7 separate regions of the Homo sapiens genome follow, and regions 1, 2, 3, 4, 5 and 6 are each linked to region 7. The links come from fine-mapping of genetic effects on gene expression. A gene starts in region 7. Each other region holds a variant in brackets. All regions are shown on one strand. Distances are from middle to middle.

Region 1 (4,070 bases), 250 kb before region 7:
TAATAGCTTCACATATTTCCCTGGGTTTTGTAATATATACTTGTCCATACCAATACTTATAGGGATATCCTGCATGAGTACTGTTTATTTGCAAAATGGCCCTCAAGAATATATGCACTTTAAAGTATATACATAAGACTAATATAACTAAATAATAATCTATAGTAATAAATAAGAAATAGTCTGTAGTAATAAATAATATTCTTAGATTAATGGATGTAGCTCACTATGTAGGAGAAAATGATCAGGACCATGATGCGTGTAGACTCAACTGGCTATCAATGTCCCATATGATGGCTCTACCCAATGGAGTGGAAAAATGCTCAAGCAAGATACGCCAAGTTGAAAAAGATCCATGGCTTCACTGTCATCCCAAATTTTCGTTAAAAATATGCCCTCCTGTTGTTTAGTTTCAAAGATGGAGACCAGAGCTCGTAAGATTTATTTCATCACTATCAACACCAGACGACTGTCCAAGCAGTCATCAGTATTCCTCCTACCTGAAACACACACACACTCTCTCTCTCTTTCTCTCTCTCTCTCTCTAGTCCCAAGGAAAAGAAGGACAAAGTTTTTCACATCTTGAATCAGAGTACAAATATTTACCTCATTTTGTTGTATTGATTATTAAATGAGCCAATCTTTATAAAGTGCCTAGCACATGGAAATCTCACAAAAATGCCTGCTGCTGCTGCTCCTCCTCATCCTAGTCCTTATTATCCTCCTCATCCTTCTTGTCCTTCTCTTTTTACTACTAATACTACTGTGTCTGGCTCCAAAGTATTATATAATTAGATATTAACATTTATGCCTAATGAGTCAGCTATAGTATACTGAAAGGAGCTGATCTTGGAATTAGACCAGCATGGGTTTGAAAGCCACTTACTGACCACAACAAGAGTTTGGCTAACTTACCTAACCTCCCTGAATGTCCATTTCTTTATCTGTAAAATGGGACAGTAATATTTACCTCATAGGATTGCTGTAAGTAATTAATGCAATGTGTCTAGGAAGTAATAGGTGATTAACAAATGTCAATACTTTTGCCATTTCCTTCTAAACCTCCACTATGAGAGTCTTCACTCTAGACAAGAGGATGCCACACTTGAATAAGTGGGCTGTAGCCCCAGACATCATTTCCTCCTCTGAGTGATTGATGGAAACATGTTATCTCTTTCCAAGCAGCAGTTGCTGTTGACTGCCACACAAGTGTTCCCTGGAATGTGCTGTTAGCAGATAGTGATGCTTTATTGCCCACAGTCAGCTGACCATTTCTCTGGAGGAATGAGGAAACCCAAATAAAGTGGGTGAACCAATGCTGTCAGCCAATTCAGAATATGGTCCTAGATGGATACAAATGTAATCACTCCCTGACTACACCATTTCCAGCAATTTTATATGCTTACACAGCCCTGCAAAGTCGAGTCATTATCACTGCATACCCAAAATGTCCTAATTTTTATGTTTATCTTTAAAGCCAATTATATTCTTAAATTTGTTTTGCAGAATTTCTTCCAGGATGTTTTCCAGTCATTCTGGATTTAAGCTATTGCATGGCTTTTAATCTCTTCCCACAATTCCTTCATATTCTATCTCCCACCCAGGTGTTTCATGAGATTGTAAGTGAATACTAATGTGAGTCCTTTACTAGTCCTTCAAAGAGGCAGAATAACCTTGGGAGTATGGGCATGGGTTTTACAGTACATTATGGCCCTTATTGTCATGGGACCTACATCAGTTTAGCCTCAGTTGTCTCAACTGTGAAATGGAGATAGTAAAGCACACTGGTAGAAAGAATTATTGAAGCTTAATTGAATGCGTAATAGAAAATGTCTAGCACATGCTTGATGCTCAATACTTTGCAATACTCAGAAAACTTTTACACATACAGACTTGCTTCATCTGTCTTCTGGATACACCTTCTATTAAAAACTCTTACTCTGAACTTTTTGCACATTTTCCTATTTTTTTAAATTGCTACCTTTTTTTTTAATTGCTAGATTCTGTCCTCAACTAGCTCTGTCATAGAGAAAGGCAAATGGTGAGCAAGCGACAGTGGACACTTCTCCAGTTGTGTCTCTGTGTGTGGTAGTGGGACATGGGAAGAATGGAGCCTCCCTGGGGAGGAAGGGGCCACACTATGTTCCCACCTTGTGTAAGAACGTAGGCAGCTTGACAAACAAGAACGTTTCCTGG[C/A]ACCCACTGGGCTCAAAGCACCTGATTAGGCCTGGTGAGAGATTACAATGGGATGAGAAGATGGGCCTTCTGCCTGGCTGCTCAGCCAACCAGCTGCTTAGAAGCCTGAGAGAAGCAGGGGAGTCAGGGCTGGCTGGGTGTTGTCACACCACAATGCATTATACTCAAGAGGAGCTAATTTTAAGCTGGCAAGTTGTTCTATCTGTTAGCACAGAAAATATTCATTCCTGGAGTAAAGGAATTGGGAGTTAACCAGATCCAGGGCACCCAGGGGGCCTTGTAAATCACAGAGCTGCTGAGTAACCTGGAAGCTCCATTGAGAACAGCGAGAGCATGTATTCCAGCCACTAAGGAGCACAGAAGCCTTTTGTAAGCCAAGTGAAGGTAGATGCTGTGCAATCAGTCCACAGAGAGGACAAAATCTAGGACAGCGGTTACTATAAAGCCACAGCTAAAGTTCTCCTGTTGTCTTTATTTACTCAGCCCTTCCTTTAAAATTTCCTGATTTGTCACTGTCATTTGTGAATATTGCCTGATCAAAAGGAAGATCTGTTTCTCCAGAGATGGGGCTGGGAATAGATAGGGGAAGCATGTAGCCTGTGGAGGCTGAGCATGTTCTTGGGTACCTCTGTTGTAGAATTATTCCTCTGCCTGGCCAGAGAAGAACTCTGAATAGCAGGCTGTTCCACTTGGAGATAATGTGGAGCATGATTTCCCCTGCTGTCTCAATTATTTCTGAAATGCAAACTTGCAAAGACCAATTCATGTGCTTGTGTTTAGGAAAACCTGAGCCCTCCCAAACAGTCACGGGCTTTGTTCTCCTGGTTTTCTTCTGAGAGTTTCACTCTCCAAAGGATAACTAGATTCTTGTAGAAACTAAATTGAAGCTGGAAGATTAATCCAGGTGGCTTACATGTCAATCACTTTGTAGAAACCTTTGAAGGTGGATGTGTGACAAGCATATCTAATTATTTATAATGACACTTTTATTACTATGGCTCTTTTCTCCTAAGGATTTTCTGATTTCAGAGTACTTTAGAAGGTTATTGCTATTAATCACAGCATATTTATTTAAAAATTGGAGTGAGATGATATGCAAATAAGCAAGCTGAAACTTCTTTTAAAATTATATTTTATATATGTTTCTATTATTACATTTTTATTTGCCAGTACCGAATATTTTCTTTTACAGTTGAATTATATTTATTCTTTCAAAAGCAAATTTCAAAGTTGTAACTTAAAATAGTAATTAAAGACAATCAACATATTCAGTAATGCTTAGAAGCAACTTTAGTTGAAACTGTCTTTGCAAAATTATAACAGTGAGGCAAATCCAAACTGATTTAGATTCTTGCTTCTAACCTGACAAGCTAACTGCATTTGTTAACTTTAAAACAAAGAGGATAACAGTCCCTTCCCAAAACTAACCCCCTCCTTGCTTGGGGACCAAAACCAACTTTGTAAGACTTATAAAAGGCCATGAGGTTAGGGTTATGGGAGGGGCCTGAATTCTGCTAAGATGTATGCATAGTTCAATGATAACCAGCCATTGTTCCCTAGCTTGCCTTTCTATAATTGTTTGCTACATCAGAGGTCATATGATTTGCAACTTCCCCTATTGTTCAGATAGATAACATCACTATTGTCACAACCTAAGATTGGTCTTTGAGATATTTTTCAGACTTTTGCATTCTGGCAACCGACTGACTCTACTCAGACCAGTAAGTCATACCAAGGAACCGGTTCAACCAGTCCTGTAACCCTTATCTAGAAATAGAGTCAGCGTGCCAAAATAATATGAACATTCCTGTAATTTCATCCCCAACCAATTAACAGCACCTATTCCCTAGCCTTCTGCCCACCGAATTATCCTT
Region 2 (4,070 bases), 130 kb before region 7:
TAACTTGAGTTTGCTTTAGATTGGTTGCCACTATCACTTAAGAATTATTAAACATTTTTATTGCATTGCCTCAGCATGTAATATGTTTTAAGTATTGGCAGGCACTATGCTTTATATCTTTCCAATACTACTCTCATAATAAGCTTGTGAGCTTAGAAGCCATGCTGCATGCAGGAAATTCTGATTCAGGCATAGTACTGTTTCATTTAAATAGGGAACAAAATGAATTAATATTATTCATCTTAATTACTACCATTATGGATAAGAAAAATAAACTACATTTCAAAATTAAAGTAATATTTTATGTATTCAAGATCACTCAGATATTATTTTCTAGGTATTTGAAATCTAGATTCTTATACCTTATAGATTTTTATTTTTAAATTATTTTAGATGGAGAATATTTGGAACATCTGGAGCATCTTGCATACTCTTCTGATGTCAAATAAAATTACATGTCAAAATACCATTATATAGTGCTTAAGATTTCACTTTCCAGTTACACTATCTGTTAAACCAAATATTATTCAGAATGTAAATAAACATCTCCTTGATAACTGTTATTTCTATAAGCACATACTATGCTATAATTCAGTGAGACTTTCAGGAATTACTGAACTGTTTCAACCGACTTGCCAATATACTAAACAGCCCCACCCCAAACAGTATTTTGAAATTCCTGTGCTTTGTTTACAATGATTTATCTTTTCTCTCACTATTCCTGTCAGTTGTCAGTCACTCTCGCTAATGATAACAGCCCGCATTTGTGCAGCACCTCAGAGCCTTCGAAGCACTCGCCCATTTATTGCTCCCTTCTGTGATTGTCTCATAGTCCCTTTCCAGTTTGCCACTAACATGCCAGGCCTTTGAAAACAACATAATCAAACTTTAAAAGAGATTCAATGTAAAGAGTAAACAGTCTCTGTGAGAGGGGCCCAAGGAGTTTCCTTGTGAATAAAGTTTGGTTCATGGACATCAGCATTTATTTTGACTGCTCAAAACCTGGGTGTTTCCTGCAGAGCTGGGCTCTGAATGGTTGAGGTTGGCAGATAAGAAGACTCCAGCTGTAGGAAATATTTCTGTTATTGCCCTTTTATAAGGAAATGTTTAGTGATTCCAAGATGTACATTTGAAATGATAAGTGACCTTAGAGATAATTTATTGCAGTCACTCATCCTGTAACTAAAGAAGCTAAGGACCAGAGAATTTAAAGTGTTGAAGATAGAACCAAGTTAAGGAAATGACTCTTGTGACTCTTAATCCAATATTGTTTTTATGAACACCACATCATGTATTTGTTCTAAATAGTCTTGGTATTTTAAAGATACTGAATTTTTGTAAGTTTGGCATGGTGATATGAAATGGAGATAATATATTTCAAGTGCATTACTATAACATGCAATGGAGTATGTAATAGAAAATTAACTTTCGTATATTAAATTTTAAATATTGTATCAGCATTTTCTCCATAGTTGCTGAAGTTGGAAAGGAAATATTTTAAAAGAGAGATCTTTTAATGTCATCTAAACACCCACCACAAACAGAGCTTGCATCGTAAAAATACAGAATCCTAAGAAAAAAAGAAAGAAAAGGGAAAAAAGAAGAGATGGTGAGTGAAAGAAGCTAGGAAGGAGATGAGAAAAGAGGAAGGAAGAAGAAGGCAGGCAGGCTTACAGGAAAAGTTCATCATTCTTTGTCGTATTAATATGAAGAAAGTATGGTAATTTTTTGTGAGTTTTTGTATTGTGAAATAATGTGGAAACTG[G/TGG]TGGTAAATCAAGTGTAACACTTAAGAAATAATTTGGGAGACATTAACTGATATGAGCTCTAAACAAAACCTCCAGTGAGGATCCTGTGTAGTCTGTGAACAAAGCCAATCTACTGCACACTGACCTTCTACAAAGAGGCTCTGAAAACAAAGTGGTTGTTAGGTGAGGTAAATTGAAATAAGAAAAGATAGCAGATATTACATTAAAGGCTCCCGTATTTATTAAGGGTACGGCAATTCTAAAATCTAATTGTGAAATGCAGTTCTCCCTGAGGATTCCTACAGCTAATTGGAACAGGTGAGAGAGAATGTAGAAGAAAGAGGTAGCCATATTTGTACTTAGATAGTTTTGGGTAAGCTGTCTGTTCTGTCTAGAAATCACATCAGCTTTCCAGCAGAGTACCATGAGAAAATGCTTTTGGTTCTGTTTGCCATCCCTGCTAATGTTTACCCTACTTAATCATTTGCATTTAAACTTGATAGACCAATTACATCAAACAGCTACCTCTCCGCCCCAGCAGATTTTAATCAACAAACAGAAATTAATTTGTATGTAGAAAGACAGACATGAACTGATTTATAGAATACAGTTTTAAGGCAAAAAATATTTCTTTTCTTTAGCAAGATAAGATTAAAGGACTCTTCTGTACATGACTGGAAATGAAAGCCATGTTAAAGTTACATGATATTTTTGGCCTGGAATTTAGAAAGAATTAGTAAAACAAACTTTATTACTAGGCCTATTTTCCAAACTGGTAATATTATAGTATGAAAGAGTCACATAATTTCTTCCTTTTTTGCTACAATTTAACATTCTAGTTTGATCTTTTGCTTTAAATGGTAATTCACTTAAGTTTTGGTCTCCTCTCACCTAAAGTCACTTGCTCTTAAGGAATATAAAACATATGTATATTTAAAATTATTTTCTAGTTCTTAGATATTAAAGATATAGGGTTGCCACTCCACAGGGCTTTGAAAAATTCTACTTTGCTTGGGTTTTTACAGTGATTAAAGTATTATTTCTCTTTAGTAGGTACATTTTAATCACTGAACTTAGAAGATATCTAGTGATATTGTACTATTGTAATTTGTTGTCATTCATTTGCCTAAAGAAAGGTGAGATAAGTTATATCCTTTGTATTGCTGAAAAAATACATCATTTTGAACATATATCAATACAATAAGCAAAACTCTGAAATACATTAATATTTATATAACTTCTTCAAGAATTTTCTCACACTGTTTTAGCAGTTCGTGATGGAACTAAATCTATTAGAAAAAATACTAAAGGCATTGTACAATATCTCATATTGCATTCTTGTATCCCATAAGACAATGGGAATTTAGCAAGGAGTCAGGATCATCTTAATTGTTAAACTAAAGTTTTCATTTGAATTTCTGTTTTATTAATGGATCACCATGTGCCCCTGAAGGTTTTTATATTGGAATGTTTTACTAGATTCCTTAACAGCCATTTGCCTCTCTTGGATAGTGGAGCTCCAAGCACAAAACTTTGAAGTGTTATAAAAAGCAGAACACTCCTGGAATCTTTACAAATGGAACAAGACTAATACCTTATGCCTACATGATATCAAGGCAGGTAAAATTATATTATACTAATAAAGAGAAAGATGATTAAAACACACACACACACACACACATTTGGCAGGCTAACAGACAAAACATGGTGGTGTCAAGGATACCAAACTCAAGACAAATGTCATTATTCTTCTCTATGTAGTGTTGAGACCTGGGTCCTGAATTTCTTAGCACATTATTCACACATTTACTTTTTAGAAAACTTCCCACTTATGCTGACATTTTACATTGTGTTTTGTGTGACCAGAAACTACAGAATACAGAAGCAGAATACTATAAAGAGTGGAGGAAAAAACCCAGCAATTTGAAACTCAAACGTCCTGGTTTTGAACCCTGACACCAGACTTCCTAGCCATATGACTTTGAATATATTTAACCACTACACCTCCCTACTTCACAAACTGTAAAGCAGGGACAATCACACTTATCTTTCAGCATTAAGTCGATAATGAATGTACGATATCAGTAACCTGGAACATGGTGGGTGCTTCACAAAGGATAGTCCAATTTCCCCCCTTTTTTTTTTTTTTTGAGGCAGAGTCTCGCTCTGTCGCCCAGGCTTGAGTGCAGTGGTGTGATCTTGGCTCACTGCAAGCTCCGCCTCCCAGGTTCACACCATTATCCTGCCTCAGCCTCCCGAGTAGCTGGGACTACAGGTGCCTGCCACCACGCCCGGCTAATTTTTTGTATTTTTAGTAGAGACATG
Region 3 (4,070 bases), 140 kb before region 7:
GGCAGGGAATTGCGGGCCTATATAGGAGCTCTTTACTTTCCACTCAAATTTTTCCATAAACTAAGAACAGATAAAAATAGTCTATTAATTAAAAACAAGTGATACACACAATTTCTTCAGCCTATGCAATATATTCTACATTTAGACAGTCTCATCTAAATTCCACTGGTATAGGGAGAGGGAAGGACACAAACATCTTCAAGGGCAAAGCTTTGGCATCCATTAGCAGAGGTGATTCCAGTCTAGGCAGCTGAATCCCCAGGCAGATTTCAGCAGGTGCTGACTTTCCAACAGCACCAAAACCTCTGATGAACAAGAGTGTCTTGAGTAGAGGCTTAGCAATTGCTGTTTTATGATTATGTTTTTCACATATTCCCAATCCCACTGAGGTGCTAATACATTTGGTTCATCTTTCCATTTTAAAAGAGACAATGGCTTTGATAATTTGTTCATGGTTACTGCTTAGGGAGATAATGACACTCAAAATTCCCCTAACTGAATATTATAATATTACGTCTTTGGCTCTGCTATTTTTAACAGCTTTTAAAGACAATAGTGTCATTTGGGTTTAAAAAAAAGTTCACTGTTCCTACTCATTAAAGGAATACTAGGTTATAAAGACGAGCTGTAAGAGTCCTAGCAGGGCTTCAGATTATATCATGTATTTAGTTTATGAATCTCATTTTGTTATGAATCTATAACTGAAACAACTCCCAATGCTTCCCCCAGGAAGTAATTAATTGGAAACCAAACAAACAAACCACATGGAAAAGACTGAAATACTTTGTATTACTGTCTGAAAATCCAATGGTAATTTTCAAGTTCATTCCCACCTGAGTCCTACAAAAATATGCTATAAGTGTGTGTTCTTCAGCTACAATTCTACCTCTCTGTGTATTTACAACAGCTAATAAGAACACCACCCCTAGAATCAATTTAAAACATTTTCTTTATGTTTTGTGAATTGCAGGAAGCCTCAACATGCAAATATAACTATTAGTACATGTTTAATTAACAGGCATATATTACATACTTCTTAGGTAAAGAGTATCATTTTAGAGAGTTTGTTATGTAGAAATCCATAAATTTGTGTTTCTAATTTTAAAAACAGGGAGCTGTTCAACAAAGAAAATTTCCAATACAAAATCTTATTTAACAGTCACCAAGGTAAACACATAAGATCAATAAAAATCGCTGATCATACTTCAACACAATTATACTTCAGAAAGATAAAGTTATGGAAATTTTCTATTTGTTCTAAAGCCTTTGTAGCTATGAGAATATTTATAATGATTTCTGTGGGAAAGCCAATAAAATCTTTTGAAAATGAAAAAAATTAAATATATCTGAAGAATAGTGTAGGTTATATCTTTATCTAATATTGTTGATATAATCCAAAGACTGTAAAAGATATATGCTAAACATCTGATTAGAATTTAATAAGTTATTTATTACTGATCTGTGCCAAACAGTCTTCAATATTTTTTCTAAGAATGTTTTTCTGTGAAAATATTTTTATTTTTAAAAATAAAATTTCCTTAATCTAAAAGGCTCTGATTCGTATTAATTCAGATAAATTGGACATAAAGCTATTGATTGGCTAAAATGTCCAGATACTATACTCCTGCTGGGCATATGATATGATTTGGATTTGTGTTCCTGCACAAATCTCATGTCTAATTATAATCCCCAATGCTGGAAGAGGGGCCTGGTAGGAGGTGACTGGATTATGGGCGTGGATTTCCCCCTTGTTGTTCTCAAGATAGTGCCTTCTCATAAGAGCTGGTGGTTTAAAAGCCTGTGGCAGCTTCCTCATCACTCTCTTCCTCCTTCTCTGGCCATGTAAGATGTCCCTGGTTCCTCTTCACCTTCCGCCA[C/T]GATTGCAAGTTTCCTGAGGCCTCCTCAGCTGTGTTCCCTGTACAGCTGGTGGAACTGAGTCAATTAAACCTCTTTTCTTTATAAATTACTCAGTCTCGGGTAGTTCTTTATAGCAATGAGAGGACGGTCTAATACAACATATACATATAAATAAGCTACCTCTTCCAAGGAGATAAAAATCTAGAAGACAGAAATGAAACATAATTAGCAGCAGAGTGTAGCAATTAAGGCATTGTTTCTGGCCTCAGACCTGGTAAGGATGAATCCAGCTCTGCTACTAATAAGCTAGGTGACTTCTAGTGAGTTACTTAGCCAATATGCACTAATGTTTCCCAGCTGTAAAATTGAGGACAATGATAGTGATATGGAAGGGAAGTGCTGGGTAGGGAAGAGCGTGGTCCCTTTAAATGATACAGAAGGGGGAAGGGAAGAGCTGGGTAGAGGGGGACGTGGTCCCTGGCTAGGGCTCCACCCCCAGGCCTGTGTCCCCACACCTAGGTGAAGACAGGCATTTTTGTTTTCCTGCCCAAATGTTGCATTTCCCAAGACCACCCTGGCCTGCCATGCCCCCATCCTGGGCCTACAAAAACCCTGAGACCCTAGCAGGCAGAGACACACAGGTGGTCGTCTGGAGGAGCAGCACATCGGCGGGGGGAAGGTGGGGGGAACAAACGAGCAGCTGGACGTCAAGAGGTATGTATTGACAGGCACCAGCAGGCCGGCAGGCCGTGGGCTTGCAGAAACAGACGCGGAGTTGGCGGGGGCAGCTGAAGGAGAGGCTAGGCCGCTGAGTGGCCAGACTCCAGGAGAAAACCTTCCCACTTCATCCTCCTTCTGGCTTCCCCCATCTGCTGAGAGCTACCTCCACTAAATAAAAGCTTGCACTCATTCTCCAAGCCCATACGTGATCTGATTCTTCCGGTACACCAAGGCAAGAACCCGAGATACAGAAAGCCCTCTGTCCTTGTGACAACGTAGAAGGTCTAATTAAGCTGGTTAACACAAGCCGCCTATAGACGGCGAAACTAAAAGAGCACAAGACACTGCGATAGGGTCGGAGCTCCATAACCTGCCCCATAACCTGCCCGTCTGTGTGCTCCCTAGAGGTTTGAGCAGTGGGGCACTGAAGAAGCGAGCCACTACCCCTGTCGCATGCCCTGTGAGGGGGACAAGGGAACTTTCCCCCTTTTAATAGTATCATGCTCATAGTGTTATCATGAATATACTAAATTAATAAGTATAAGTTGCTTTAAAAAAGTGCTTTTCATACAACGAGTGCTGAAAGTTATTATGTCTCTTTGGCTTTTATTTATTGGAATAATGGAGATTATATGCCAAATGTTGCAGGAGCAGAGGAGGGATTGATGAATAGGCTGGAGAAGGCTTTGCCTGGAATGGACATTTATACTGAATCATCACAGATAAGAATTTCTTCAAGTGGAAAGAAGGATGAAGGAAACTCCTTGCAAGAGAAAGGCTGGAGCAAGGGTATAATCATGTTCAGCCAGTGTGGCTGAGGTTTAGGGGCTGTAGGAGGTGATGGAAGGAAAGGCACCTGGGAAAGAAGCAATGGGGTGATACTTTGAAAGCCTTAAATAATAGCTTAAACAATTTGGACTTTATTCTGTAAAGAATGTGGAGTCAACAAAAGGATTTTTGGTTCATTTTAAGGATGGCAGTGAAGTGGTCAGATTTTTGCTATTGAAAATTATGGCAGCAGTATGAAGGCAAACTAGCTGGAGAAGGGACTCGGGGAAGGTAATCGTGTTAAAGTGTTTAGGTTATGTACTCATAGTGAAATAGGGCAGTGGGAATGAAAAAGAGGCACAGTGAAAAGGAGACAGGAGACATTTCTAAAGTAGAATCGATATGAGCCTCAGTCAGTTTGCTGCATTTTTCAACTACAAAGTTCACATTTCCCAACATAACTAAGTACACAGCTCACATGAAAAACAGCTAATACCAAGTCTCTGTAGAAGCATATCATACACTATGTGTGAAATCACACACTCACTAGGCAAATAGGAAAGCTGTCTTTTTGTGTTAGCTCTTTGGAAAAGCTTGAGACTAAATAAGTAGAAGAGTCCAAAGCAAATATTAACTCTGGTGGTGTTAGGTGCTTGGATTTCTAAACGCAAATTGTTAATGCAAAATGCATTTTGGCTTTAACACACGCGAGCCCTTTTTGCCAC
Region 4 (4,070 bases), 31 kb before region 7:
AGTTTTTATACGAAGGGATGTAGGCTGTCTGCTAACCAAGTTAATCTTAGCCAGTGGGTAAGAATGCTCTGTATTCTAAGGCCAATGGTGACTGCTGAAAAAGAGCCAAAGTTTTCCAAACAGAGTGGCTCTTGTTGTCTTTGTGGGAACTGACTGGCTCTTGGATTTTCCAGGGAGGGCAGGTTTTCATGGTTTGAGTGGTCAGAAAAGGATAGCCTGAAAGATTGGTCAAAAAACATAAAACCATCAGGATATAACATTAAACCATTAAGAGATTATGAAATTAGCATTAGTTACAGTAACTGGATATAGTCTTTTGCTTATTTCATTCACTTTTTTTCATACTGAAATCTGATAAGAAATTAAAAGAATTGTAGACAATAAATCTAGGCCTAATATGTGTATTTATATGCAACAATATACATTTATTGCCACTAAATATTCCCTCTTAACTACTCTGAATTGCTTTAACTAGTTATTTGATATATGGGTAATAATAAAATTTATATTCTGATGTAATATGACATTTTGATTTATACTTTCAAACTTACAAAGTTTAAAAGGAAAGATGAGTATTGTAAATATACCAACAATCACTGCACTAGCTTTTAGAAAGGTAACAGGCATGCAATTTCCTTGAAACTAAAGTGTAAAGAAAAAAAATAGGTCAGCAAATATTTACTGAAATTTGCTGGGTACGATGATGCATACAGAAATGATCAGTGTCTGAACTATATCTGAATAATTTCTGTTAAAACTGAAATGCAATTATTTTTGAAATGCAAAAGACCACCAAACTCAAGTAGCATTTTAAAAAAATGACAAAAATCAGTTGCAGTCTGTGTTTTAAAGGAATTTCAAATATGCCTTATAAGAAATTCACATTAGGGGCTGCATTTCTATGTATTTTGAGTAAACTAACCAAAGTAACTTAAGATTCACAAGGAAAAGAGATGAGAGTAGAACAAAATAAAAGAAGTGTGAATGTAGTAAAAAAAAATCAAAGAAAAGGAAGAAAAGGAAAAAAAAAAGCTTATGAGTCCTAGAAGGGTTAGAACACTTTTTTTTTCTTGCTCTTGGCAGAAGGAACAAAGCAACAAGCAATCTCCAGTGCTAAGAAAAATGTAGACATGAATTAATGGTGATTAGAAATTGGTAAATATTACCAGCTTCTTTATAAATGGCTCTCCTAAACATGCTATGGTTAATGGTTTAGGGTACAAAAGATATGACCAAAGCAAAAGCCATAAAAGAGGCTTTTATACTAAGGAAATAATTTATACAATAAACACAAGTGTAGTCATTCCAGCTGGCATGCTGCTATCCATCTTAATTATTGCAATAAATGAACCACTGGCCATCACATTTAAAAGACTATGGAAAACTGGATGGCTACCAAAAGATCAGAAAGAAAAGCTTTATGTTAAAATAAAGTGATGATTAAATTGAAAATCAGGCCATAATACTGATGATACATTTTCACTAGGCTAAATAAGGTAGCATTATCTCTGAAAATTATATTTACTTGACCTCGTAAATTTCTCAGTAATTTAAGAAGCAACTATATAATTTGTGCACTATCCACATACCAGATTGTATTTACAGAAAGCATTTTTTCTTCTGAAAAAAAATGAAAGAGGGGGAGCTGCAGTGGGCATGCATGGGTCAGCACAGCATAGGCTAATTGAAGTTTTGGTATATAGACAGCACTGCCTCCTCTAGGACAGCTGTTCTCAAAGTGTGGTCCCAGGACTGGCAACATCAGCAACATATGGGACCTTGTTAGAAATGCAAATTTGGAACCCCACTTCAGAAATACTGAATCTGAAACTGTAGATGTCAAGCCCAACAACCTATGTTTTAACAAACTCTCCAGGTGATTGAGAGGCACGTGCAAGTTTAAGAACCACCATTCCACCAAAACAAAAGCTTCATAGGACCATGTTTTCTTTATCACTGCATCCCTAGCATCCAACTTAACACAGTAGCTAACCCATGGTAGTCACTCAACAAATATTTGTTGAATTAATTAGTTAAGAAAGCTTTTATTAAAAAGTGGATTTAAAATGATATTCTAAAGCATTATTTTACATATTTTTAGTGTTGTCAAATAAATAATTCCATTTATCAAACAGAAGTTCAATTTTTTTAAAAGCTTCATTTTATTGGTTCAGTTCTTATTTGCATTTAGTCAAATTATATTTGGAAAACAAAGTGTTCTTTAAAAAGGTATGTGACAATCATTATACGTAAATAGTTTAGAATTTCTGGATGAGTGGTTAATTTGTTGTGTTTCGTTGTTATTGAAAATTGGAGGGAGGGTTATTTGAGGAAAGCTTGATCATGAAAAATGGAATCTACTACCTATTCATGAATATATTATGTTATGTTAAATAACAAGAAGTGA[T/C]AGCTATAAGTTTAAATTGATATGTTTAAATCTATTATCTCTATACTTGGTATAAATTATTTTTTAAATTTAGTCACCCATTTAAACTTAGAGTTATCACTTTTTGTTATTCAACATAACATAATGTACTTACATAATTTTGAATTACAAAGCAACTCAAGCACTTTGACTAAGTTTACTTCATATATACATGTGTACAACTTGCAGAAGATACACTTTATTTTTCAAAAGTAATGTTTATAAGGAATAAACAAAAATCAAAACTTAAAACAATAGTATAATATTTATCTGTAAAGCTTAAACTCACATTGCCAGTTAGATAAGGGAACAAATGCCAAGAGAAAAATTTATTAATCTCAAAAGGCAGAGTAATGGCCTCATCATTTCACAAAGCACAATTTCAGGAGACACACTTTATTGTATTTCTTTGTGTGAATTATAAACTTTAGTAGAAAATGGGAAATAGGCAAAGTAATACATTTTAACTGTAGCACACCAATTGATATAGCCTCGCAAAAAAAGGTTATTTTGAAAAATTAATTCAATTCATCTACAATAGGAAACCTGTCACCATAAGCTGAAATTGGATAAAAGTCCACAGATAGTTAACACTTTCATGCCACCTAAAAGTATACATATGCTTTTTATGAAAAATTACTATCTCACATGCTAACATTTAACAAAGGAACTATAAAACTGCTAAGAAATGAATCCAGAGGCTATGGTCTTTGGAAAGGTATGGTAACCTTTAAGAGGGCAATCACTTTTTCCTAAATACTACTTGCAGAGTTAACCATCCCAATAATCGCTGACACCATGAACATCAAGGACAGACAGAGGACTGGGCAGTAGGGAAGCTATGGTTCCACAATATTTTTACTGTTAGATAGTAGATATTGCTGAAGAATGTCCAAAACTTCATTAAATCTACTAGAAATTAATTCTACTTAAAAACTCAATTTGTACTAATGCTTTTGTTCATCCTTTGTTTCTACCTTTTAGGAAGAAGTCCAGTAAGTTTCTAGTAATCTTGTCCCGTTTCTCAGTTTTGTCTCTTTCTCCAGATTTGAGACATTGCCCAATCAATCCCTGTGCTTTTCCAAGTTCAGTTTTGCCCTTTGAGTCTGATCCTTCTTTCCTTTTGGCTCCCACAGATATTCAGGTCTCTTCTATTTCAAAGATTCTCAGGAAGATCATACCTCCTAGCTCCTAAACCTCCTATTTCTCTCCTTATGATCATCACTAAGCTCCATTCTCTGTCTTCACTGTACTCCAATGATTTGCACAGCAGCCACATCCTTGAATTGTTGAATATAGATACAGTATTTTACTCATTTATTCAGCACCACGGTTATAACTTGCTTATGATGAGTGTCTAATAAATATTAATTTAATTAAGCAAAAAATGCTATAGTAGGCAGTTATTATTGTGCTTGCCCAGTCTACTTTATTAGCACATCCCAAGGCTTCTTGAAATTGCACAGAAACCTATCAAATTCCCCTCCTCCAATGTTAGTTGACTGGTCCTAAATGGACACCTGACCCAAGCTAAGCCAATCAGAAACCTTGCCCTGTGAATTCAGAACTAGGCAAACTATGTTTATTAAATGGAGGAGAACTCAATCCAGGAGACATGGGCTGCCATATGGCCTTAGAATCAAAA
Region 5 (4,070 bases), 230 kb after region 7:
TGTTTTATAAGATCTGATGAGCTTTCCCCTCTTTTGCTTGGCACTTCTCCTTGCTGCTGCCATGTGAAGAAGGATATGTTTGCTTCCCTTTCCACCATGATTGTAAGTTTACTGAGGCCTCCTCAGCCATGCTGAACTGTCAGTCAATTAAACCTCTTTCCTATATAAATTACTCTGTCTCAGGTATGTCTTTTTTAGCAGTGTGAGAACAAACTAATAGAGTATATTTATAGTAAAAATAAACACAATTAAGTATTAAAAATCATGCATTTAAAAGGAGCATTAACCATTTTAAAATAAACATTATAAATATCCTTTATAATTTTAATAGTATGTTTTTCTCTTGAGAATGTGCTGGGCTATTAGAAAATAACTGATACTAGACATAGTACTTTAATCTCTCAATTTCATAGAGAGTTAAATTTAAGAAAGAACATTAAATGTAATCTCTAGGGTACTGAACTGAGAAAAGTTTTTTTTCAAAGTATCTTGATTATTTTTCATATAGAATATCACTCCTTTCTCTCCCTGACCTCAAAGCCTAGCTGCTGATACAGGGGGAAAAATATTTAGATAAGTTTCTATGTTTTTATTTATACTCAAATGCATATAATTAAAACAATTTAATAGAGACTATAAACTTATACTGAAAGTTTGTGTATGCAACTAGAGATGTAAGATAATTACATCTCTAGTTGCTAATACACTGAATAGCTTTTAAATGATAATAATAACAAAGATAAAACTTACTCTTAGGAACTTAAGACCTTGATATTGCAGAGATCTTCAAGGTAAGCTCCAATTTTTTGAAGGGCAAGCCATCATATAAAAGCATGCTAGTATAAATGAAAAGTTAAGATGGGTTTATTTTTATAAACAAATTCACTTTTCATGTTTTATTTATCTTGAAAAAAGCCACAACATATTTCCAGAACTATTATGACCAGAGGCTGTTTTTGGAGGTACAGTGTGCACATAGCCAGCGTGCAAAGCTAGGCTGGTATGCCTGCTATTTCGTCCTTTGTATGAAGATTTTTTTTTTTAGGTGGTTGAACCATTTTGATTTGATAAGCACTGACCTGCACAGTGAGGATGTAACCTTCATTGCCTACCCTGGCATGTTTTTTTAAACAGCTAGGTAAACAAGATTCTTAATTGTGACATTTCCTATGAGCATGTGGTTTTGTTTTCAGCACAGAAGTATACATTCAGAGGATATTCTGAGAATTCTTGGCAATAATCTGAAATGACTTCAACAACTTGAACAAATTGTTCTTCTCCATTTGCTCAAATAATTATGTGTCCTTTTGGCTTATCTGTGAGAGTCCTGTTTACCTTTGATGTTGCTGGAATATTTCTCTGATCACGTGGTCAGAGTCTTTAACTTGTGTCTCAATTTTGTTACAAGTAGAAGCTTATTAATATCTAACCCTGTAGGCATTGCGGAAATATTTCAAAGACTCTTTAGCCAGCAGAAGTATGAGATATTTTCACTTCCTCAAAGTAATAACAATAATAGTTATCAATATTACTATAAAATAGAGAAAATGTTTTGGAGCCAGAGATTGTAGAACCTGATCTACATTAAACTTCTGGAAGATTGACTCTAGTTGGCCCACTGGAGAGTCTTTGTTAGGCAGTAGGTGCAGATGTGTGCTTCCTTTAATGAGCTATAAGCAGGACCCATGTGAATGCATGAACATTACCTCTGAAAGAATTAAAGAGGGCATCCAAGGTAGACCCCAAAATACATTCTCAGGGAAACTGGAATTTAAAAAAGTATGAAAAAGCTTGGAATCTGTGTTAAAAGAATACGAATTATATATAACTATAAGAACAAACATTACTGGTAAGTAAACAGAAATAATTTCAACATCAAGAATGCCTCAGTTAGGTGTTACATTCAATTTACACAAGAACAGACACTTATACTAGAAACATATGTTGTTAAAATAATTCCCATAGT[C/T]ATTCTGGGGGAAGTAATCTAATAGAACTCTTTATGTGCAGATGAGAAGATGTAAAACCATAGTGGTTAGGTAATTTTTTTTAAAGTCTGGAGGAACCATTGCTTAAGCTTCCTGCTCTACAAATCAGCTTAGACCATTTCACAAAGCCACTCTACCATTCTAATCATTTTCTTATATACTTAAAAGAAATTGTATTTCCCATTTTCTTTTGAAGTATTTTATTAACAAATGCAAAGTGTTTGATAATGGAATATCTATTAATTAGGCTAACATATTGAATTCTCATTTTGCTAAGAGAATATTTTCTTAAAGAGTTTTTATTCCCTCTTCTTTTACTTCCCTTTTTGAGGTTTTTCTAAGAATGAACATTTAAGTAGTGCTCTCAACATTATACACTCCTGAAAAAAGACATTTGCAGCCGGGCGTGGTGGCTCACGCCTGTAATCCTAGCACTTTATGAGGCCAAGGCGGACAGATCACTTGAGGTCAGGAGTTCAAAACCAGCCCGGCCAACATGGTGAAACCCCGTCTATACTAAAAATTCAAAAAATTAGCCGGGCATGATGGTGCACGTCTGTAATCTCAGCTACTTGGGAGGCTGAGGCAGGAGAATCGCTTGAACCTGGGAGGCAGAGGTTGCAGTGAGCCAAGATCATGCCACTGCACTCCAGCCCGGGCAACAGAGTCAGACCCTGTTAAAAAAAAAAAATTTGCTGTGATCAATGTCCTGCGGAAGTGCAGTGAAATAAAGGCTGCTCTAAAGATTTTAAGGCTTGCTTTTTTATTTCTTGTTATCAGTATTTGGTCTTTCTGAGAACAATGTCTGTAGTATAAGCTTCTTAGGGTTGCTGTAACGAAGTGTCACAAACAGGGTGGCTTAAACTACAAAAATGTATTCTTGCACAGTTCTGGAAGCTAGAAGTCTGAAATCAAGATGTCAACCGCGTTGGTTCCTTCAGAGGGCTGTGAGTTTCATCACTCTCTCCAAGCTTCTGGTAGCCTCAGGGGTTCCTTGGCTTCCAGTGTCTTCACAGCATCCTCTCTGTATGTCTGTCTTTGTGTCCAAAATTCCCCTTTCATAAGGATATAGTCACATTAGATAAGGGCCAACTGTAATGACTTCATTATAACTTGATCATCTTCAAAGATCCTACTTCCAAATAAGGTCACATTTGTAGCACTTTGGGGATTAGGGCTTAAACATCCTTTTTTTTGTCTTTTGAGAGAACACAATTCAATCTATAACAATGTCATATCCAGGGTTAATGAACATATAATAGCCATTTATATTCTGATGTTTGTAGACCATTTCATTTGATCATTTCCATTAGTTTTTAAACATAACCCAATGACTAACAAAAATATCTTCTCTCATTTCAATATCCCACCTAAAGATATTTCTATTTTTATCACCTTACAATTGCACTTCTTAAAAAAAAAAAAAAAAAAAGCAACTATTCTATGTTTGTGGTCTCTATTCTCTCTCATATCCCACATTCACTTTTCTTTTTTCTTTTCTTTTCTTTTTTTTTTTTTTTGGCAAAAACTTTTTTTTGTTTGTTTGTTTGAGATGGAGTTTTGCTCTTATTGCCCAGGCTGGAGTGCACGTGGCACAATCTCAGCTCACTGCAACCTCCACCTCTCGGGTTCAAACCGTTCTCCTGCCTCAGCCTCCTAAGTAGCTGGGATTACAGGCACACGCCACCACACCCAACTAATTTTGTATTTTTAGTAGAGACAGGGTTTCACCATGTTGGCCAGGATGGTCTTGAACTCCTGACCTTGTGATCCACCTGCTTCAGCCTCCCAAAGTGCTGGGATTATAGGCGTGAGCCACTGCGCCTGGCCTCACATTCACTTTTCAGCCCACTGTAGTATGTTTTTACATTACATCACTCTGACAAAACAGCTCTTAATAAGGTTAACAATGATCTCCATTTTGCTAAATTCAAGATTTTTCCTGTCCTCAATTTGCTTATCTCTTCAGGATCATTGTTCAAAGAAGCAATCTACAAGGGGCCTTAAGCATCCCTGTATGTTCTTCCTGGGCATGCTGTGAAAGCAAAGCCCTTGCTATACTTTACTTGGGCCATTTCTCTGGGT
Region 6 (4,070 bases), 990 kb after region 7:
AATTTCTGAAATACACTTAAACTGGTATTTTTATTGATGCACAAGAAAATATTGCTTCTATGAAGGAGGATCTAGCTAAAAATTTCTTAACAGAAGAACTTTTTTATGAGAGAACAACATTGTTTATAGAATTTTAAGATGTGTTAGAAGTAGTAACAATTGCACATATTTGACAAAAATCCAAATTATTTAATATGCATTTATATTCGAGAATCTCAAAACTCAAAAAGATCTGATGACTCTGGTTCCAGAAAAGAAAAGAGAAGAGACATAAAGTACAGCACACACAGGTACAAGAAAACATTGGAATGAGAAACAGAAAAGTTGGAATAGGAGTAATAACACAGTGAAATATAATTTCCAGAAAATTGTGGTGCGTGAAAAAGAAGACAACTCCAAAAAATTATATACTATATGGTTCCATGTATATTAAATTTTTTAAAAGACACAATTTTAAAACTAGAGAATAGTGATAATCAGGGGTTCGGAATGTTGATGGAGCTGGAGAGCTAGATGCATATGATTTTAAAAGGACAATATCAGGGCTCTCTCTGGTTATGGATCTGTTTTGTTTCTTGGCTGGTGATGGAGACATGAGTGTGCACATGTGACAAAATTGTACAGAACTAGACTCATGCATGTGCACACACACAAATGAGTACAAACAAAACTGGGAAATCTATGTAAGATTAGAGGATTGCATCAGTGTTGACATTCTGGTTGTGGTACTGTACTATAGCTTTGCATATTACTTTTGGGGGAAATTAGATAAACGATATATGAGATCTTTTTGTATGATTTCTTGTAAGTATAGGGGACTCTACAATGACCTCTTTATAAACAGTTTCATTAAAAATATATAAATAGAATAAAAGATTTAGGCTTCAAAACAAATGGAATCCACAAGTAACTGTATTATGTATTATAGGAATGTATGCTATGACATATTTTATAACATTCATAAATTTCAAAGATAAAGATAAAATCTAATAAAATAAAATAGAAAGAAAACAACTAGCCCATTAAAACAAAACAAAAGCAGGCTGGTTTTAGCATTCGCTTTGTTCGTGATGAACAACTCTGGAGTCAGTGTTGTTCTCCATAACTATAAATGTCATAAAATAACGGATAAATGTAAATTTTTAAAAACAATGTGACTCAAGCATTTCTTAGGCAGTAAAATTAGTTTGCATAAGTGAGGTAAAAACTATATTTTGTAGTCCACTGAGACATAAACTGTTCATCTATTTGACCTTTCTGAAAAGCAGTAATTGAAAAAATATTACAGTAGAATTATAAATGAACAAAAAGAGAATTCAGGAATCAAAATATTATTTCAAGGAAAAAGCCATAGATACTGAAACCAACAAAAATTTGCAAAGAAGTCTAAAAAGTTTATATTAATATGAATATTAAACTCGAAGGAATTATATAAATATGCTTGAATTAGAAGTAATACAGTTTAAGAGTAAATTGATGACATGGGAGATTGAGATGAACACAGTATCTTCTAATTTTACATAATGCTCAAGGCAAGAAAATAAATGTAGTTTAATTATTTAATATTAAAATATAATATGGCAACTTTAAAAAAATATTATACTTTAAGTTCTGGAATACATGTGAAGAACGTGTGGGTTTGTTACATAGGTATACACGTGCCATGGTGGTTTATTGCACCCATCAACCCATCATCTACAGTAGGTATTTCTTTTAATGCTATCGCTCTTCTAGCCCCTCACCCCCGACAGGCCTCGGTGTGTGATGTTCCCCTTCCCGTGTCCGTGTGTTCTCATTGTTCAACTCCCACTTATGAGTGAGAACATGTTGTATTTGGTTTTCTGCCCCTGTGTTAGTTTGCTGAGAATAGCGGTTTCCAGCCTCATACATCCATATCCTTGCAAAGGACATGAACTCATCCTTTTTTATGGCTGCATAGTATTCCATGGTGTATATGTGACACATTTTCTTTATTCAGTCTATCATTGATGGGCATTTGGGTTGGTTCCAAGTCTTTGCTATTGTGAACAGTGCTGCAATAAACATAAGTGTGCA[T/A]GCGTCTTTATAGTAGAATAATTTATAATCCTTTGGGTATATACCCAGTAGTGGGATTGCTGGGTCAAAGGGTATTTTTGGTTCTAGATCCTTGAGGAATTTCCACACTGTCTTCCACAAAGATTGAACTAATTTACACTCCCACCAACAGTGTAAAAGCATTCCTATTTCTCCACATCCTCTCCAGCATCTGTTGTTTCCTGACTTTTTAATGATCACCATTCTAACTGGTGTGAGATGGTATCTCATTGTGGTTTTGATTTGCATTTCTCTGATGACCAGTGATGATGAGCTTTTTTTCATGTTTGTTGGCCACATAAATGTCTTCTTTTGAGAAGTGTCTGTTCATATCCTTTGCTCACTTTTCGATGGGGTTATTTGTTTTTTTCTTGTAAATTTGTTTAAATTTCTTGTAGATTCTGGATATTAGCCCTTTGTCAGATGGATAGATTGCAAAAATTTTCTCCCATTCTCTAGGTTGCCTGTTCACTCTGATGATAGTCTCTTTTGCTACGCAGAAGCTCTTTAGTTTATTTAGATCTCATTTGTTAATTTTGGCCTTTGGGCAATATTTTTAATTGAACTTAACTCCTGAGGATAAAGTAACAGCAACAACAAAAATGATACCCAGAAAAAGAGAAAACAAAAATTGCTATTTTTCACGAAAAAAAATCAATGGACTTTTAAAATTACAAAGTCCAGTATTTTTTAAAGTAATGAAAACATATTAGTCATGATAAAAAATGACAATAAAGTTCACTAGAAACAATAAAAAACAACCACAGTAAACTTTCTGCAGCTGATAGGAGAATCACTACAATCTACATAAAATGGTATTTTAAAAATAAATTCATGTTAACTTCTGGGTTTGTCTGTGAACCACAGAGCTGGTATTGGACTTACCTTACTACTCTGGACAATTCTAAAACTCAACAAACCTTTTGAGGAACTCTTTTCGTTTATTAGAAAACAGACAGCAAAGGGCTCTGAAACTTGAAGAAGGGATGGCTCAAAGGTGAGCTCTGCACATATCATCAACTGGCTTCTGGTTGGCGTCATTTCTAACCCTTAAAAGTATAGCTTTAACAGGCAGCAGCAATCTTGTTGGGCAAAACAAACAGATCAAAAAGGTGACAAAGTGGTAGCTTTTTTTGTGGGGAACAGCACCCAATGGGAAGGGCTTGCAGTGGAGAAGATTAAGAAATCTGTGTAGTGGAGCTCTTTGGTCTTTGACTGAATCCTAAACTACACATTTAAAGAACAGGATTATGTAATCATTAGCAGGTAACATCTGAGAATTAAGCATATTTTTGAGGTAAATGACTGAGAAGATATTTGAATTTCGAGCTTTCATCAACCAGAAAAAAATGTAAAAATAAAAATCATATTCTATAAAAAAGTTTTGCACATAAATTCTGAAAACACAACTGAAACAGAACCACCTCCCCAACCTAAAACTAAGTTAAGACAGGATCAAAGTAATCTAACAGTAATAGAAATTCCCCCCAGAACAACTCAATAATCTATAAGAGAAGATAATGCAATCCAGTTTTTATAACATATCATTTGTAACATCTATATGCAATAAATTAGCTACTTATTATAAAAAGAGGCAAATAGGACTTCCAATCAGAAGTAAAATAAATGCAGTTAAGCTGAGTAGACTTATAGATGGCACAGATATTGATATTAACTGACAGGGACTTTAATATAACAATTGGAGAGTTTAAAATAGTTTATAGGAAAACAGGAAAAAATGGGTGAAAAATGGGGACATTCAAAAAAGGAAAGATATCCCTAAATAAATGATTCTAATGGAAACGTTAAAGAAACAAATACAATATCTTTATAAACAATCTTAGTTGGAAATAGACTGGACAAAGCAAAATAAATATTTAAATGAAATAAGAATGATACAAATTGTACAAACTGAAGTACAGATGGAAACGTAATAATAAAAGACTAGAATATCTGAGGCCTGTGAGAATATATCGAAATAGGGAATCTAGAGATGA
Region 7 (4,070 bases):
TCCCCAGCGTTGTTACACTAGGACACCTGCTTTAAATCCGGTTGAACTATGGTTTCACAGTCCCCGCCCCAGAGCCCGAGATTTGTCAGAGAACGCAGACGCCTTTTTTTTCCCTCAGCCTCAGAAACATCAGGTGAGCTCATTACCTCACCCAGAAATGTAACTTTAATAAAGAGATCTGGAGAGGGCACTCCTCCCGCCCACACACACAGCAACGGCAGCAGCAGCAGCAGCTCGCAAACACTTGTAATCTCTTCCTCAGGCTCTGGCCCCCAAACCCCTCTCCCCGCCAGTTCCTGGGAGAGATTCAGAGGCTTTCAAACCTCTTCTGTGACCTGAGCTTGCCGACAGCTGAAGGGATGTGCACGGATAAAAGGAAGTGAGATTTTTCTTTGATAAAAGCTAAAGAAAAAGCTAAGAACAAACAGGCCAAAATACCAGGAAGTAGGAGTTTAACTGGCAACTGTCTACGCAGGGATAGAAAAAAAAAACTTCAAAGAAAAAAAAATCCCCTAAATTTTCAGTTTAGGGGAGCAAAGGAACCTGCTGCTCTGTCAGGCAACTGTGAGCGCACGGAATACCCTGTTAGAACAACTTGTGTCAGCCGCCAGGCGGGCCTGAGGATACCAGGGCCAGGGGACGTCCCCGAGGGTGTGGAAAGGGATTTCCCGAGAGATATTTTAGTTGTTGGGAATTTTGCCTTTTCTCTCTCTCTCTCTCTCTCTCTCTCTCTCTCTCTCTCTCTTCCAAGACTCAGTACAGAACTGAGAACTGAGGCTCTATGAGCAGGTCCTGGAAATTCACAAACCTCTCACTGAGGTGTCTCCCAGGCCTACCTACTAATTCCTGTTCTGGCTGTGTTATCTGCCTGCGGTCACCCTTTCACTCACCACCCGCCCAGACAATGGACGGGGACCGCAGGGGGTAACGTTGAAACCACGATTTTAAGCTTTAGCAGGTTTCGCAAGGGGGGCGGGGGGAGGTGATTAAAGTCCTCTCCTTCTCTACCCCTCCCATCCCTTCCTCGGCTCACCAAGGGGAAGTTACTAGGGGATTTATCACGAAAAAGTGCCGGCAGTTATTTCATCCGAGAACTAAGCGAAAGAAAAACTGCTCGGGGCGCAGTGACGTGGACTTGGATACCCAGAGACAGGAGGAACTGTCAGAGGGCAAGAGTCCGCCGCCTAGCTGGGAGCCGCAGGGACAAGGGGAGAGCGTCAGGCGAATCCTGCCCACCCCGGAGCACCAAGTTCCTGGAGATTCACCCAGTTTCCCCAGCTTGATGCCCAAACTTGAGCTAACCAGCCAAGCCCAAACGTGCGGCACAGGTGACCGAGCCCGGGGACAGCTCTGTGCCAGGACAGCGGTCCCCTTACCTCCACCACGCGCCTGGGCGCACTGCCTCGGGGGTGCGAGGCTGGGACGGGGACCTAGGAAACTGCTCCAGGCCCACGTCTGTCTGGGGCTGCTCCCAGGCCCTTGCTCACCTGGCCTGAAGACGGTGGCGGAGATCAAGAGGCAGAAGAGCAGACGGCAGGAACTGGCCCCCTTGGATTCCATATTCCTCCTCCTTCTTGGTGGGCCACTGACGGAGTCCACGCCGCAGGAGGGGGCGTCGTCCCGGGCCCCGCGGTGCCCGCGCGCTGGCGGGTCCCGACGCAGGGGCAGCGTCTTCTCCCAGACACACCGTCCCCTGGGCTGTGGCGCTGCACCTTCGGTTCTCTGCCGCACGCAACTTTCCACCACGCAATGCCCCCAACTCCTCCTCCCTCCCGGTCAACACCAGCCCACGGGCCCTTCGGCTGCTCCTCCGGGGACAACGACCCTCTGTTTCCAGGAGACACTTGAGTAATTCGGAAAGGTGTAAGCGGTTCTTTTCGCTGGTATCTTCTTTTATTTTCCTTGTATTGGAATGATAATAATAATGGCAGTGGCAATGTGCATGAAACGCCAGGTGCTAAGAAGGACTCGCAGGAGGCGGCGACGGGGGGGCGGCGGGTCTCCTCAGGTGGCAGCGGTGGTAGCAGCGGCAGCGGCGGCAGCGGTCTCCGGGCTGCTCTGAGTAGAGGGACTGGAAGGCGTGTGTAAGCTGCCTCTTTCCTCCTCTCCCCGCCTCCTCCCTCCCTCCCGTCTCCTCCCCACTTCCCCGGACGCAGCGCAAAGCAGGTGGTTGAAGCGCGGATCCGCAGCCTAGAGGCGCTGCAGGACTGAGTCCGAGCCCTGAGCCCAGCTCCGGGATCAGGGAGAACCGCGTGCCCCGGTCCTGGAGCCCGGATGAGCGGTGCTTCACCGCGGCTCCGCCCCCAGGGCCAGGTCCGCCAATAAGAAGCAAGCACAGGAGCCGCGCGCGCCAGGGAGAGCCCTGGGACTAACACTTTCTGTGATGTTGCAGCGCCCCAGTGATAAGGCCTCTGGCTTCCAACTGCCCACCCACCCTCGCTGAGGTTTAAAAATCGACTGCCCTCTCCCTCCACCCATACGCCCATCCCACTGACTCATTCCTCAGAGATTTTTCTCCGCCGTGCTGCTGCAGCCTTCTGTCCTGTAAAGAGAATAGTGGGGCAGGGCGGTGGCGGTGGGGAGCGAACCTTGGGTCCAAGAGCGGGAGTGAAGGGAAAAGGAAAGGAAAGGGCAGGAGGAAGTGGCAAAGGTGGAAACTTGCTTCTTGGGAGTTAACAGGAATAGCTACTTGTTGGCAGGGGCAACCCCTGTACTGGACTGATTCCTCCTGTACTTTTCGAATCTCTCTCCTCCCCCTGCTCACCCCCACCACTCCCCTCACACCCGGCTGGCATAGACTTGGTTTTAAAGGAAGACTACGTGAGTCGACTGCCCGGTACCAACAGAAGATATTTGCTTTTCCCGGGGGAAATTAAATCCGGAATTTCTAAACCGTACTTCGTCATACGGATTTTCCCAATGTCTACAAAAGCCCTCTAGAGAGCGTGTCACTTTTTTACTTTGAGTTAAGCGGTGATTTTAAGTTATAGACAGAAAATCCTCAAATTATTTCAGATTAAAAGCCAAGTCCGTCTTGGTCCGTTCCCGAAAGCCAGGCACTCCAGCAGATGGACAGGCTTCTTAGGCAATTTCTAAAGATTGAACCACCTCCCAGGAGGAACATCGGGAAGCTGTGTTGCTTTCAAATCAGGCAGAGAGCATGAAGGAAGATTTTCCTCTAGAACACCGGGGTGGAGCTGTCGGAGCCCTAAGTGGCTCTAAATCAGGGATGCAGGATCACAACTCTCATCACCAAAGAATAATAAAATCTTGGTCCCTGAAGCACTTCGCTGGGGCATTAAATAGCCTTTCGTGCATCACAGGGTCACCCTTTTGTGAGACTGGTCTCCAGCAGAGGATGCCAACTAGTAATCGTTACATACTGCACTTTCATCAGAAAACTGCGAGTTACCAGCGAGATTGGAGACTCGCAACACACAGACACACACACACACACACACACTCACACACTGATTTTTAAAATTGTTTATCTTTTAGTGCTCTAAACTATTAAGCCCTATCTTCAGCTGTGATTTTTCTCAAAAGCCTGCTTGTCCTGTTCTTCCAGTTCTCCTTACATTAACAATATTCTAGAGTAGAGCTTTTATACCATATTTTTTTCCTCTCAAAATAAGTAGTTTCTCCCACTTGGTTTAAACATTAACATTTCATTTGCATCTTATGAATCAACAGGAAGGCTATCGCTAGGAGGCAAATGCCTTTTAACTCTATATTCCTTGAGCTAAGCTTGGCTGAAATGCTAGCATTTCCATGGACTCCTGTAGAATTGCTTTAGGGAATTGTTTTCTTTTTCACTGTGGTTGTAAGTGGGGTGTATTAGAATAAATCGACCTGACAATATATTTAACCTAGGTCCGCGAACGCTCTATCTGATCTCCTCTATTTTACGATGGGAGTTAATACAGCATAATTGCTTAAAGGTAGATTTGCAAAAGGAAGACTGATTTGGGCTCTGACACTAACTGTATGATCTTGGTCAACTCACTTAACCTCTTTAAGCTTCAGTCTCCTTTCTTGTAAAAAGTGATAATAGTGCTAGCCTCATGGGA

What was found. PIP is the estimated chance that this variant, and not a neighbour inherited with it, causes the effect.
Region 1: its variant is the best candidate, but not a certain one, in a credible set for the expression of ALCAM in atrial appendage (GTEx, PIP 0.56).
Region 2: its variant is the best candidate, but not a certain one, in a credible set for the expression of ALCAM in whole blood (INTERVAL, PIP 0.88).
Region 3: its variant is the best candidate, but not a certain one, in a credible set for the expression of ALCAM in blood mononuclear cells (TOPMed, PIP 0.67).
Region 4: its variant is the best candidate, but not a certain one, in a credible set for the expression of ALCAM in whole blood (INTERVAL, PIP 0.72).
Region 5: its variant is the best candidate, but not a certain one, in a credible set for the expression of ALCAM in whole blood (INTERVAL, PIP 0.71).
Region 6: its variant is the best candidate, but not a certain one, in a credible set for the expression of ALCAM in tibial nerve (GTEx, PIP 0.62).

What each region holds. Positions count from the first base shown.
Region 1 is chr3:105,611,632-105,615,701 of GRCh38, reverse strand. No RefSeq gene overlaps it. Among named protein-coding and RNA genes, the nearest start is that of ALCAM, 250 kb to the right of the region's middle. The variant C/A (reference allele first, on the strand shown) is at 2,197.
Region 2 is chr3:105,497,856-105,501,925 of GRCh38, reverse strand. All of the region lies in intron 1 of ALCAM (activated leukocyte cell adhesion molecule), which reads right to left. Among named protein-coding and RNA genes, the nearest start is that of ALCAM, 130 kb to the right of the region's middle. The variant G/TGG (reference allele first, on the strand shown) is at 1,766.
Region 3 is chr3:105,503,111-105,507,180 of GRCh38, reverse strand. The region is part of intron 1 of ALCAM (activated leukocyte cell adhesion molecule); the gene reads right to left. Among named protein-coding and RNA genes, the nearest start is that of ALCAM, 140 kb to the right of the region's middle. RefSeq lists enhancers at 1,990-2,520, 2,521-3,051. The variant C/T (reference allele first, on the strand shown) is at 1,878.
Region 4 is chr3:105,395,858-105,399,927 of GRCh38, reverse strand. The region is part of intron 1 of ALCAM (activated leukocyte cell adhesion molecule); the gene reads right to left. Among named protein-coding and RNA genes, the nearest start is that of ALCAM, 31 kb to the right of the region's middle. The variant T/C (reference allele first, on the strand shown) is at 2,408.
Region 5 is chr3:105,138,348-105,142,417 of GRCh38, reverse strand. No RefSeq gene overlaps it. Among named protein-coding and RNA genes, the nearest start is that of ALCAM, 230 kb to the left of the region's middle. The variant C/T (reference allele first, on the strand shown) is at 1,967.
Region 6 is chr3:104,372,216-104,376,285 of GRCh38, reverse strand. All of the region lies in intron 1 of LOC105374020 (a long non-coding RNA gene), which reads left to right. Among named protein-coding and RNA genes, the nearest start is that of MIR548AB, 850 kb to the right of the region's middle. The variant T/A (reference allele first, on the strand shown) is at 2,056.
Region 7 is chr3:105,364,899-105,368,968 of GRCh38, reverse strand. It overlaps ALCAM (activated leukocyte cell adhesion molecule), which reads right to left and starts at 2,060. Exons shown (of 16, transcript NM_001627.4): 1 at 1,488-2,060. The coding sequence starts at 1,560. RefSeq lists enhancers at 1-39, 376-535 and silencers at 1,566-1,685, 2,016-2,115.